Linked DNA regions of Homo sapiens. The protein of the gene in region 1 interacts with the protein of each later gene in a pairwise test. Each region holds a gene or a part of one and is shown in the gene's direction. Other genes may lie near its edges. The genes, in order: CYCS, LRRC56 and CROT.

What was found.
Region 2: the proteins of CYCS (region 1) and LRRC56 interact in binary tests that used the Homo sapiens proteins (3 or more experiments, as listed by UniProt).
Region 3: the proteins of CYCS (region 1) and CROT interact in binary tests that used the Homo sapiens proteins (3 or more experiments, as listed by UniProt).

What each region holds. Positions count from the first base shown.
Region 1 is NC_000007.14:25,123,230-25,126,980, reverse strand, and holds the start of CYCS (cytochrome c), read left to right. Parts: upstream 1-1,720; 5' UTR 1,721-1,781; intron 1,782-2,853; 5' UTR 2,854-2,861; coding exon 2,862-3,030; intron 3,031-3,131; coding exon 3,132-3,280; 3' UTR 3,281-3,751. UniProt on the Homo sapiens protein: Electron carrier protein. The oxidized form of the cytochrome c heme group can accept an electron from the heme group of the cytochrome c1 subunit of cytochrome reductase.
Region 2 is NC_000011.10:540,469-544,219, forward strand, and holds part of LRRC56 (leucine-rich repeat-containing protein 56), read left to right. Parts: intron 1-202; exon of another isoform or gene 203-205; 5' UTR 206-216; coding exon 217-393; intron 394-1,068; coding exon 1,069-1,156; intron 1,157-3,751. UniProt on the Homo sapiens protein: Required for the assembly of dynein arms.
Region 3 is NC_000007.14:87,355,604-87,359,354, forward strand, and holds part of CROT (peroxisomal carnitine O-octanoyltransferase), read left to right. Parts: intron 1-1,903; coding exon of another isoform or gene 1,904-1,987; intron 1,988-3,602; coding exon 3,603-3,727; coding exon of another isoform or gene 3,728-3,751. UniProt on the Homo sapiens protein: Beta-oxidation of fatty acids. The highest activity concerns the C6 to C10 chain length substrate. Converts the end product of pristanic acid beta oxidation, 4,8-dimethylnonanoyl-CoA, to its corresponding carnitine ester.

The sequences.
Region 1 (3,751 bases):
AAAAAACTTTTATCCTAGAATAGTACATCCAGTGAAAATATCCTTCAGATGTGAGGGAGAAATAAAGACTTTCCCAGGCAAACAGAAGCTGAGGGATTTCATCAACACCAGACCTGTCCTACAAGAAATGCTAAAGGGAGTTCCTCAGTCTGAAAGAAAAGGACATTCGTAAGCAATAAGAAACCACCTGAAGGTACAAAACTCACTACTAATAGTAAGTACACAGAAAAACACACAATATTATAATACTGTAATTGTGTGTAAACTGTTCATATCTTGAGTAGAAAGACTTAGAGATTAACCTAACTTATCAAAAATAATAGCTATAACAACTTTTCAAGACATAGTATAATAATATATAAATAGAAACAAGAAAAAGTTTTAAAAGTGGGGAGAGTGAAGTTAAAGTGCAGAGTTTTTCTTAGTTTTCTCTTTGATTTTTGTTTATGCAATCAATGTTATGTTGTCATCAGTTTAAAACAATGGGTTATAAAATATTATTTGCCCTGGGCGTGGTGGCTCACACCTGTAATCCCAGCACTTTGGGAGGCCGATGCGGGTGAATCACCTGAGGTCAGGAGTTCGAGACCAGCCTGACCAAATAGTGAAACCCCATCTCTACTAAAAATACAAAAATTAGCTGGGCGTGGTGGTTTGCTCCCGTAGTCCCAGCTACTTGGGGGGCTGAGACATTAAATGGCGCCACTGAAGAAGAATGAATAAGGTCTAGTAATACAACAGGGTGACTACACTCAACAATAATTTATTGTACATTAAACAAACTAAAAGTATAATTGGATTGCTTGTAACAGAAAAAAAGGATAAATGCTTGAGGTGATGGATAGACCGTTTACCCTGATGTGATTATTATACATTGTATGCCTGTATCAAAATATCTCATGTACCTCTTAAGTATATATATATATTTACCTACTTCGTACTCATAAAAATTTTAAAAGGTACATAAATGTTATCATTGCATCCTCTTAATTTTATTTTTCAGTTCCAGAGGGATAATCCTGTCTCTGCCGCAAATGCAGCACCTTCCTCAGTCTTGGGGCGTCCATCAAGCGGAGAGCTGGAATGTGACTGAAAGTAACAGAGTATAGGTGGAACTAGAACAAGGTCACGAGCTGGTGCCCAACTCGTGTAACTCCTGGTTCCAGGCTGTCCCTCTAGGATGCTGTTGGCGCCAGCCGTGGTAGTAGGACAGAGTCTGGGTAAAGGTCGCCTGCTGACAAGATGGTAGCTAGGAGACCTCTAGGTGCGCCAAAATTAGGGCGTCTTTTCCTGGACCGGCAAAACGCCCTGCTCAAAGCTCATTACATCACCACGCCCAAGAACTGATACTTTAGCAGGGCAACGCACCAACCAAGCGACTCCGCCCCACCCTCCCCGCTCCTCCAGCACACGCAAGCGCACAGAGGCCCGCGAGTGACGTCACCTCTCCCGACACCACCTCGTTGTCGTACGACCAAAGGCCTGTCGTAACGGCCGGGAAAAGCCTCGAGAAGAAGGGCACGCACGCCGTACACCCTAACATGCTCGCCAGCATGCGCGCGCAGGTCCTTGGCGCAGGCATTGGGACTGGAGCCAATGAGGTGCGGCGACGTTACTGCGTAGCCGCCAGCTCGGCCGCACGTCAGGGCGCGGGAGCGCGGAGCGAGTTTGGTTGCACTTACACCGGTACTTAAGCGCGGACCGGCGTGTCCTTGGACTTAGAGAGTGGGGACGTCCGGCTTCGGAGCGGGAGTGTTCGTTGTGCCAGCGACTAAAAAGAGGTGAGAGCGGGTCGCGGAGGCCGCACCTGGTTAGAGGCAGAGCTGTGGGAGGCGCGCACTTGCGAGCGACCGAAACCCAAGCGGGGAGCATTCGAGTGGAGCCCGCGCTGGGTGGGAGGGCGGGGAGTGAAGACCCTGGACTGTGGTCAGACCGAGCTGGGCGAGTAACGGCTTGAGGTGCGGCGGAGCCCTAACTAGGGACAGGTATGGTCTCGGTCAGGGACTGGAGGCGGCTTGGATACAGATCCGAGGAGGAGGCGGCCTCTTCCGTAGTGGTTGCTGAAGGGCTATGGAAATGATAGGCAAGACTTCCCTCCTGGAAAGCCGAAGCTTAGAGCTTCACGTTCTTCTTCAGAGGGCAAAAGCTGTTGCTCTTCTAATAAGGGGCCAGTTCTTTTCGTGGGCACATGTTTCTTCCGTCAGTCGTTCTGACATCCTAGAAGGAGTTTCATCAATCACCTTGAAACCGACCTGGACGGGTGACCTCGTGGTCGCCCCAGGAGATCACAGGTAGGGGAGTTGGGATGTCCCCGGGGGACCGTGCAGCCTGCCCCTGAGCTCCCATTCACAAGTTCGAGTGTCAAGCTACTCCTGTGACCTGGGCAGATAGAAACAGCCAGGACCGCTTTTTAAACATTTGTGTGCTTTGCGTTATCCTCAGGGAGAGGTGGCTTTACATTGTAGTAAGATTAAATGGTTAGGTCTTTTTAAAAGTTGCGGTTGTGGTGATTTTGGCTTAATGTGTTCGCCCTTGAGCTTCAGATCTGTGACTTCGTGACCATGATTGTCTCTTCTGAAACTGGAGTTTGAATTAGGTTCCCTCTTTGCTTGGGCTTTAACGTTCCTTCACGTATACACACAAAAATACGTTTTTGAGGAGGTACTCCTAAAAATGTTTTTGGTATTAAAGAATATTTGGTATAAAGAGTATTAAAGCAAAACAAGATTCATTCTGGTATTTAATGACATAAATTAGCAATGGATTGGTAATTAAGTGGCTAGAGTGGTCATTCATTTACACTGTATTTGTTACCTGAGGAAAAATTTACTAAGTTGAAGCTTTCGTTTTTAGAATTAAATATGGGTGATGTTGAGAAAGGCAAGAAGATTTTTATTATGAAGTGTTCCCAGTGCCACACCGTTGAAAAGGGAGGCAAGCACAAGACTGGGCCAAATCTCCATGGTCTCTTTGGGCGGAAGACAGGTCAGGCCCCTGGATACTCTTACACAGCCGCCAATAAGAACAAAGGTAAGAGTCACTTGTTAAATAAAACAACACAAAATGCAGGAATATAACATGTGGCAAACTATCAGGAGTGTGAAATAACCGATGCATTCTTTCTTGTTTAGGCATCATCTGGGGAGAGGATACACTGATGGAGTATTTGGAGAATCCCAAGAAGTACATCCCTGGAACAAAAATGATCTTTGTCGGCATTAAGAAGAAGGAAGAAAGGGCAGACTTAATAGCTTATCTCAAAAAAGCTACTAATGAGTAATAATTGGCCACTGCCTTATTTATTACAAAACAGAAATGTCTCATGACTTTTTTATGTGTACCATCCTTTAATAGATCTCATACACCAGAATTCAGATCATGAATGACTGACAGAATATTTTGTTGGGCAGTCCTGATTTAAAACTAAGACTGGCTTGTGGTTAAATGAATATGTTCAGTTTTTGAATTTTAATAGTAACTCCAATTCAGTAAATGGTATCACTGTTTACCCCTTTTAAAGATATGATTAGACTTCGTTAGTAATGTTCAACTTTTCACAAAGATGGTGAGTGCCATCTTAAAACTTACTGGAGATTGGTTTTATATTTAGATTTATATAACTGGTTATGTGAATATATTTAAATACTGGGGAAATTGCTTCACTGTCTTAGAACCAAGCAAGATTCACCTGTGTTTTGTGTTCATGTTCATTTGCCTCTTAAAGGCAAGGGTTGAAGATAAATAAGGTAGC
Region 2 (3,751 bases), on another chromosome or scaffold:
GAGGCCCTCCAGGCTGGAACTAAGCAGACAAGGGCCCCATGAGGCCCAGCCAAGCTAGGAGCCTTCTCTAGGCTCGGGGTGGGGGTGGGTGCCAAGGGCTTGCTGTGACGGGGGCGGGGGGTTGAGGGCTGGGCCAGGGTCTCAGCCGGGCTGCAGAGGAGGAGGAGCAACAGCGTGGAGCTTTGCACTGTGCCTCTGTCAGCAGGTGACATGTGAATGGATCTGGGCTGGGACAGATCCCGTGGGCCTCGGCGGAGCACCTCCAGCGTCCGGGTGCGGGAGCTGAGCTGGCAAGGCCTGCACAACCCCTGCCCACAGAGCAAGGGCCCTGGCAGTCAGAGGGACAGACTTGGAGAGCAGCTGGTGGAAGAGTACCTGTCCCCTGCCCGGCTGGTGAGTGTGGGCGCTGGGGGCTGTGGCCACAGAGGCCTCCGTGGGGTGACATCCCAGGGCTCCTTCCTGCTGATGGTCCAGCCTGCCCTCTGTCCCCCTCCTGCTGGTCTTGCCTGCTGATGGTTGGCCTCAGCCCAGCCCCTGCAGCTGGGTCTGCTCCACCCACTCTGCCCTTGGGACCCCTACCAGGCCCCAAAACACCAGCAACACCAGGTGCTCAGTGACACAGACGTCCCCAGGCATTTGGGTCACAGACAGGACTGAGCCAGGCCAGAACCCACAAGTAGGGGCTGAGCATCCATTATCCTCCAACCAAAGAGGGGGGTCCTTCACTCAAGCGGGAGACCAGATGGCTCAAAGCTCAGGGCAGGGCCCGGCGCGGTCCGGGCTCTGGGTGCCGGGTGTGGTGTGTCTGCCCTGGGAGTCTCTCTGGAGACGGGCAGCCCCCAGGGCAGGTCCTTCTCCCGCAATGACCCCCCAGCCAAGTGCAGCACAAGCTCTGCTCCTGTCACATCCACTCCCATCCCACCACCCAGGCCAGGGCCAACATGGCCCAGGCAGGGAAACGTCGGTGCCTGCTCCAGCGGGAGCCCCAGAGTCCTGTAGCCAGAAGCAAGGATGGAACTAAAGTGGGGAGAGCCAGGACCAGCGCTGACCCCCGGTTGGTTTCTACAGCAGGCCCTGGCCCGGGTGGATGACCTTCGGCTGGTGAGGACGCTGGAGATGTGTGTGGACACTCGTGAGGGCAGCCTGGGGAACTTTGGTGAGCCTCTTCCCACCCCGCCATGGCCACGGCCACGGCCACGCCTCCCTGTAAACAACACACGTTTCCTGGTTATGACGACAAAGCTGTCCTCACCTCTCGGGCCGCGTATCGGCTTCCTTAGGGTTGGCCTCTGACCTGAGGTCTGTGTCAGGTACAGGCAGAGGGCAATGCACTCAGCACCCCGCACACCACACCAGTACCCCCAGCACGCTCAGTACCCCACACACCCACACCAGTACCCCCAGCACGCTCAGTACCCCACACACCCACGCCAGTACCCCCGGCACGCTCAGTACCCCACACACCCACGCCAGTACCCCCGGCACGCTCAGTACCCCACACACCCACGCCAGTACCCCCGGCACGCTCAGTACCCCACACACCCACGCCAGTACCCCCGGCACGCTCAGTACCCCACACACCCACGCCAGTACCCCCGGCACGCTCAGTACCCCACACACCCACGCCAGTACCCCCGGCACGCTCAGTACCCCACACACCCACGCCAGTACCCCCGGCACGCTCAGTGCCCCACACACCCACGCCAGTACCCCCGGCACGCTCAGTGCCCCACACACCCACGCCAGTACCCCCGGCACGCTCAGTGCCCCACACACCCACGCCAGCATCACAGAGGAACAAAGGCCAAAATGGTGCTGAGTGCCACTTGGTGTCTCCTGAAACTCATCTTGAAATAATCTCAGCCAGGCACAGGGGCCACGCCTGTAATCCCAGCACCGTGGGAGTCCAAGGTGGATGGATCACTTGAGCCCAGGAGTTTGAGATCAGCTTGGGCAACATAGCAAGACCCCTGTGTCTAAAAATAAAAAATTAGACAGGCATGATGGCACCTGTAGTCACAGCTACTCATAGGAGGTGGGGAGGTCAAGCTGCAGTGAGCTGAGATTGCACCGCTGCACTCCAGACTGGGCGACAGAGCAAAACCCTGTCGCAAAAAAAAAAAAAAAAAAAAAAAACACTCCCTCCCCGCCCTCCGCCAGGTTCCTTCTCTTTCGCCGTGTTCACGGTGGTGCTGGCCCCTGCTCCCTCCCGTGCGTGCACAGCGCGTCAGGCCACTGTTCTTTTTCCTGAACTAGTTGAGAGTTGGACATGCAACACCCCTTTATCTACTGACACTTCAGTGTGTATTTCCTGAGAGGGAGGACATTCCCTTAAATGCAGTGCGATGGCCAAAGTCAGGAATTACACCTGTACATGACTCTTAGCCATGCTGAAGACCATATTCAAATGTCACCAGCTGTCCCAACAGTGACTTTTTTTTTTTTGAGATGGAGTCTCATTCTGTCGCCCAGGCTGGAGTGCAGTGGCGCAATCTCAGCTCACTGCAACCTCTGCCTCCCAGGTTGAATTTTCCTACCTCAGCCTCCCGAGTAGCTGAGATTACAGGCACTCACCACCACGCCCAGCTGATTTCTGTATTTTTAGTAGAGACGGGGTTTCACCATGTTGGCCAGGCTGGTCTTGAACTCCTGACCTCAAGTGATCCACCCACCTCAGCCTCCCAAAGTGCTGGGATTACAGGATTACAGGGATGAGCCACCGCGCCTGGCCTGTTTTTTGTTTTTTTCATTGTTGTTTTTTTTAAGACAGAGTCTCTCTCTTGTTGCCCAGGCTGGAGTGCAGTGGTGCAATCTTGGCTCACTGCAACCTCAGCCTCTTGAATTCAAGCAATTCTCCTGCCTCAGCCTCCTGAGTAGCTGGGATTACAGGTGTGTGCCACCACGCCCGAGTAATTTTTGTATTTTTAGTACAGATGGGGTGTCACCATGTTGGCCAGGCTGGTCTTGAACTCCTGACCTCAGGTGATCCACCCGCCTCGGCCTCCCAAAGTGCTGAGATTATAGGTGTGAGCCACCACGCCAGGCCCCACAGTGACCTTTAGAGCAGGGAAGCGTCTTCCCACCCAGGATCACTGGCTGTCTGCATTTCTCCAACTGACTGAGGTGAACCAGGCCCATCTTGATTGGTCTTGTATTGTTTTGCAATGGCCTGTGAAGTCCCTGACCATTGTGTGTGGCTAACCCGCAGCCATCTGCACTCACTCGAGCCCTTCCCACAGGCATGGTCTTGGAGCGCCTGTACCCACACACTCTGCGCCCCTTCTTTTATTTTTTTTTTGAGACGGAGTCTCGCTCTGTCACCCAGGCTGGAGTGCAGTGGCGCAATCTCGGCTCACTGCAAGCTCCACCTCCCGGGTTCACGCCATTCTCCTGCCTCAGCCTCCCGTGTAGCTGGGACTACAGGCGCCCGCCACCATACCCGGCTAATTTTTTGTATTTTTAGTAGAGACGGGGTTTCACCGTGTTAACCAGGATGGTCTCGATCTACTGACCTAGTGATCCACCCACCTCAGCCTCCCAAAGTGCTGGGATTACAGGCGTGAGCCACCGCACCCAGCCACTCTGCAACCCTTCTCACAATGCAGGGATTCTGTCTGCCTCACAGGGGCATATGCCCCATCCTACAAAAGACTCCGAACGCAGAGCCTTTTCCTGGGGCCTTGGGCTGTGCAGAAACACAGGCTGGGGCGTGCAGTGATCTGGTCCTGTGTTGTGTGTGGGACTGTGCATG
Region 3 (3,751 bases), about 62 Mb from region 1:
AAAAATGACAGGTGTAAACTTCAGGGCATGCAAGCACAGGGCGACATGTGTCACTAGCGAGACACAGACAGCAAATAACAGCCGATTAAGAAACAGTAGGTACTGACAAATACAACTCTGAGACTCAAATAGGTTATCCAACTCTGGGTGGGGCCTCTAACCTCAACCTGGGGAATATGAGTATTCCTGTGTCTCCTGGGGCCTAGAAGGCTGAGTATATTGCAAAGTATATTGCAGAAAGGAAAAGGGACAACAAAGGGAATGGAAGAGACAACAAAGAGCACTCACCTATACATGAATCCAAAAACTTAGGAAGCAAGAAACCTAGAACTATTTGTCAGATGTTAGCATTTTATAGATAAAATCATTCCACAATTTTATTTTATTTTATTTTTCTGAGATGAGATCTCACTGTTACCCAGGCTGGAGTGCAGTGGTGTAGTCACAGGTCACTGCAGCCTTGACCTCCCCAGCTCAGGTGATCCTCCAACCTCAGCCTCCTGAGTAGCTGAGACTGCAGGCAGGTGCCACCATGCCCTGCTAATTTTTGTATCTTTTGTAGAGATGGGGTTTCACCATGTTGCCCAGGCTGCCAACATTTTAGAAACATGTTTCCCATATTATAAACATTTCTTAATTGGAAATGACTCAGATATCCAGTGAGTCATGCCAGGAAAGCCATAGACCAAAATTTTGGGTAAAGTAGTCTTCATGAAAGTTTGAGGGTTTTTTATTTTTGTTTTTGTTTGTTTGTTTTGCCTTTTCACATTTTGTTTTTCAGTTTCAAATGAGTTTCTAACATGTACATTTCTTTTACAGTTCTGGTTGAACTGTACAAGAAAAACAAAATCTCTAAGTAACCTAAACATCAAGTTTTATTTCAATACTAGTAGACTAATAATAACAGATTCAAATCAGGCAGAAAAGAAGAGAAAAATAGAGAGCTTTAGAAGACTCTGTTTAATTTCATAGTTGCAGGGCAAAAGTAACCACCAGAATGATAACAGGCTGAAGCTTCAGATAAGAGAATGAGACTCCAGGTTTCCACAGGGGGCAAGCAGATAAAGATTGCTGCCTGTTTTAACATGGGGTGTAAAAGCATCTGAGTCCTGCAATGTTTAAGATATAGCAAGAACAGGCTGGGCACAGTGGCTCACGTCTGTAATCCCAGTACTTTGGGAGGCCAAAGTGGGCAGATCACCTGAGGTCAGGATTCAAGACCAGCTTGGCCAAGATGGTGAAACCTTGTCTCTACTAAAAATACAAAAATTAGCTGGGCGTGGTGGTGGGCACCTGTAATTCTAGCTACTTGGGAGGCTGAGGCAGGAGAATCGCCTGAACCTGGGAGGCGGAGGTTGCTGTGAGCCAAGATTGCACCATTGCACTCCAGCCTGGGTGATAGAGCGAGACTCTGTCTCAAAATATATATATCAAGAACAAATCTTGTAAGTCCTCAGGTTCCCCATGCTATCCTGAGACATGACAAAGCAAACGAAAAGGTGACAGTCAGAAGGCAAGTGTGGAAAGTGAATGCAGTAAACCTCTGGGCTGGCCATAGGGGCCACTGTAAAGCTGCAGTAAAGCAAAGGCAACAAGTTGGGAAGTGATGAGAAGTATAGCTTTCCCATATCTGGCAAAGGGGACAAAGTGGATTAGTCCAAAGCATATACTGGCGTACATCTTGCAAGGCTACTTTAATTTTTATTATACCCCAGGGACTCTCACCCCATTGGGCTGGGACTCTAACCCAAATATTATACCCTAGAGACTCTAACCCCATTGGGCTAGAAATATTATCCTTGATAGGATGCCAAGACAGACCCCATTTATCAGAGGTGGCCAATTAGTGCTGTGCAGGCTGAATCTCCTCAGCATGGGATCTCATCCTAATGTCCCTTTGTAGTCACCAGAACATGCTACCAGATAAGGGGTCTTGATCCAGATGCTAAGAGAGGGTTCTTGGATCTCACGCGGGAAGGAATTCAAGGTGAGTTGCAGAGTGCAGTGAGAAGAGACAGCTTATTGAAAGCTACTCCATTGCGGAGTAGAGCGTCCTCAGAGGGCAAGCAAAGGAAGGCACCATCCTTATTTTAAGTTTTTCTTATATAGAGCCTTTATCTATGTAAAGACTAAACTAAGCTACGTCTACATGTGGGTGAGCAGACAACATGACACAATTTATTATTCTATTGATTTAAATAAAACTATCCTTGACATTTTAGTGTGTAAATACATCCAAACATAACTGTAATTATCTTGAAAACATATATTGTTATGGGTATTGGGATACCTGGACTTTCTGCTGTTTAGGAGTGTGTCCTTGTAGGTATCTGTAGGCTGTTCACTCAACTGTAAATATCTTCTTAATGTGGGTCATGACCAGCAAGGAATTGTGCCTTGTTAGTCTCCAGATGGAGCTGAAATTAAAACGGCATTACTCTGGCTCTCCTAAGCTCCTGCTTCCTTAACAACACTGTTAGAAGTTGAAGGTTTAATTGCTTCTTTATCTAGACTTGTAATAAAGTATAGGTGACTCTTGAACAATGCAGGGCTGGTGGTGCTGACCCATGTGTATTAGAAAATCCAAGTACAGGCCGTGCGCAGTGCCTCACGCCTGTAATCCTAGCACTTTGGGAGGCGGAGGCAGGTAGATCACGAGGTCAGGAGATCGAGACCATCCTGGCTAACACAGTGAAACCCCGTCTCTACTAAAAATACAAAAAAAAAAAAGAGCCAGGAGTGGTGGCGGGCGCCTGTATTCCCAGCTACTCGGGAGGCTGAGGCAGGAGAATGGTGTGAACCCAGGAGGCGGAGCTTGCAGTGAGCTGAGATTACGCCACTGCACTCCAGCCTGGGCGACAGAGCGAGACTCCATCTCAAAAAAAAAAAAAAAAAAAGAAAAGAAATTCAAGTACAACTTTATAACGTAAACAGTTGATTAACAGATAATTTTATGTTATATGTATTATTTTCTGAATTATTTAAGTTAGAGTAAAGCAAATGTTATTAAAAAATGATAAGGAAGAGAAAAATATATTTATTATCCATTAAGTGGAAGTAGATCATCATAAAAATCTTCATCCTGATGGTTTTCATGTTGAGTAGGTGGAGGAAGAGGAGGGACTGGTCTTGCTGTCTCAGAGGTGGTAGAGGAGGTGGAAGTAGGGACAGGAGAGGCAAGCACACTCATTATCAACTTTTATTAGGTATAAATGGACCTGTGCAGTTCAAACTCGTGTTGTTCGAGTCAACCATGTCCTTAAAATATCCAACTTTTTTTCTCTCTTTATGTTAATTTTTCCAGAGTTTGAAAAGCCAGATAGTGTAAATAGGCTTGTGATGAAAAATGCAGTCCTTTGCCCATCTCCCTGGCTCCCTCCCGACTTGCTAATCCCATTCTCTCAAGCAAGGATTTCCAAATCTTTTGTTTCTTTTCCGCCACTTTCATGTTGTCAACTCTTAATTTTATTGTTCTGCTCTGCTATTTAATACAGTACTGTGTTTTACATATCTGAGTCTTAAGATTTGCATAAGTTAGTAATAATAGAGGTGAGTTGGTGGTACTTGGTCTAAATACCTTAATACGTATTTTTCCTTTCTAGTGAAACCATTTGCAAATCAAGAAGAATATAAGAAAACTGAAGAAATAGTTCAAAAATTTCAAAGTGGGATTGGAGAAAAATTGCACCAGAAATTGCTTGAAAGAGCAAAAGGAAAAAGAAATTGGGTATTTGTTGTTATAATTGAATAA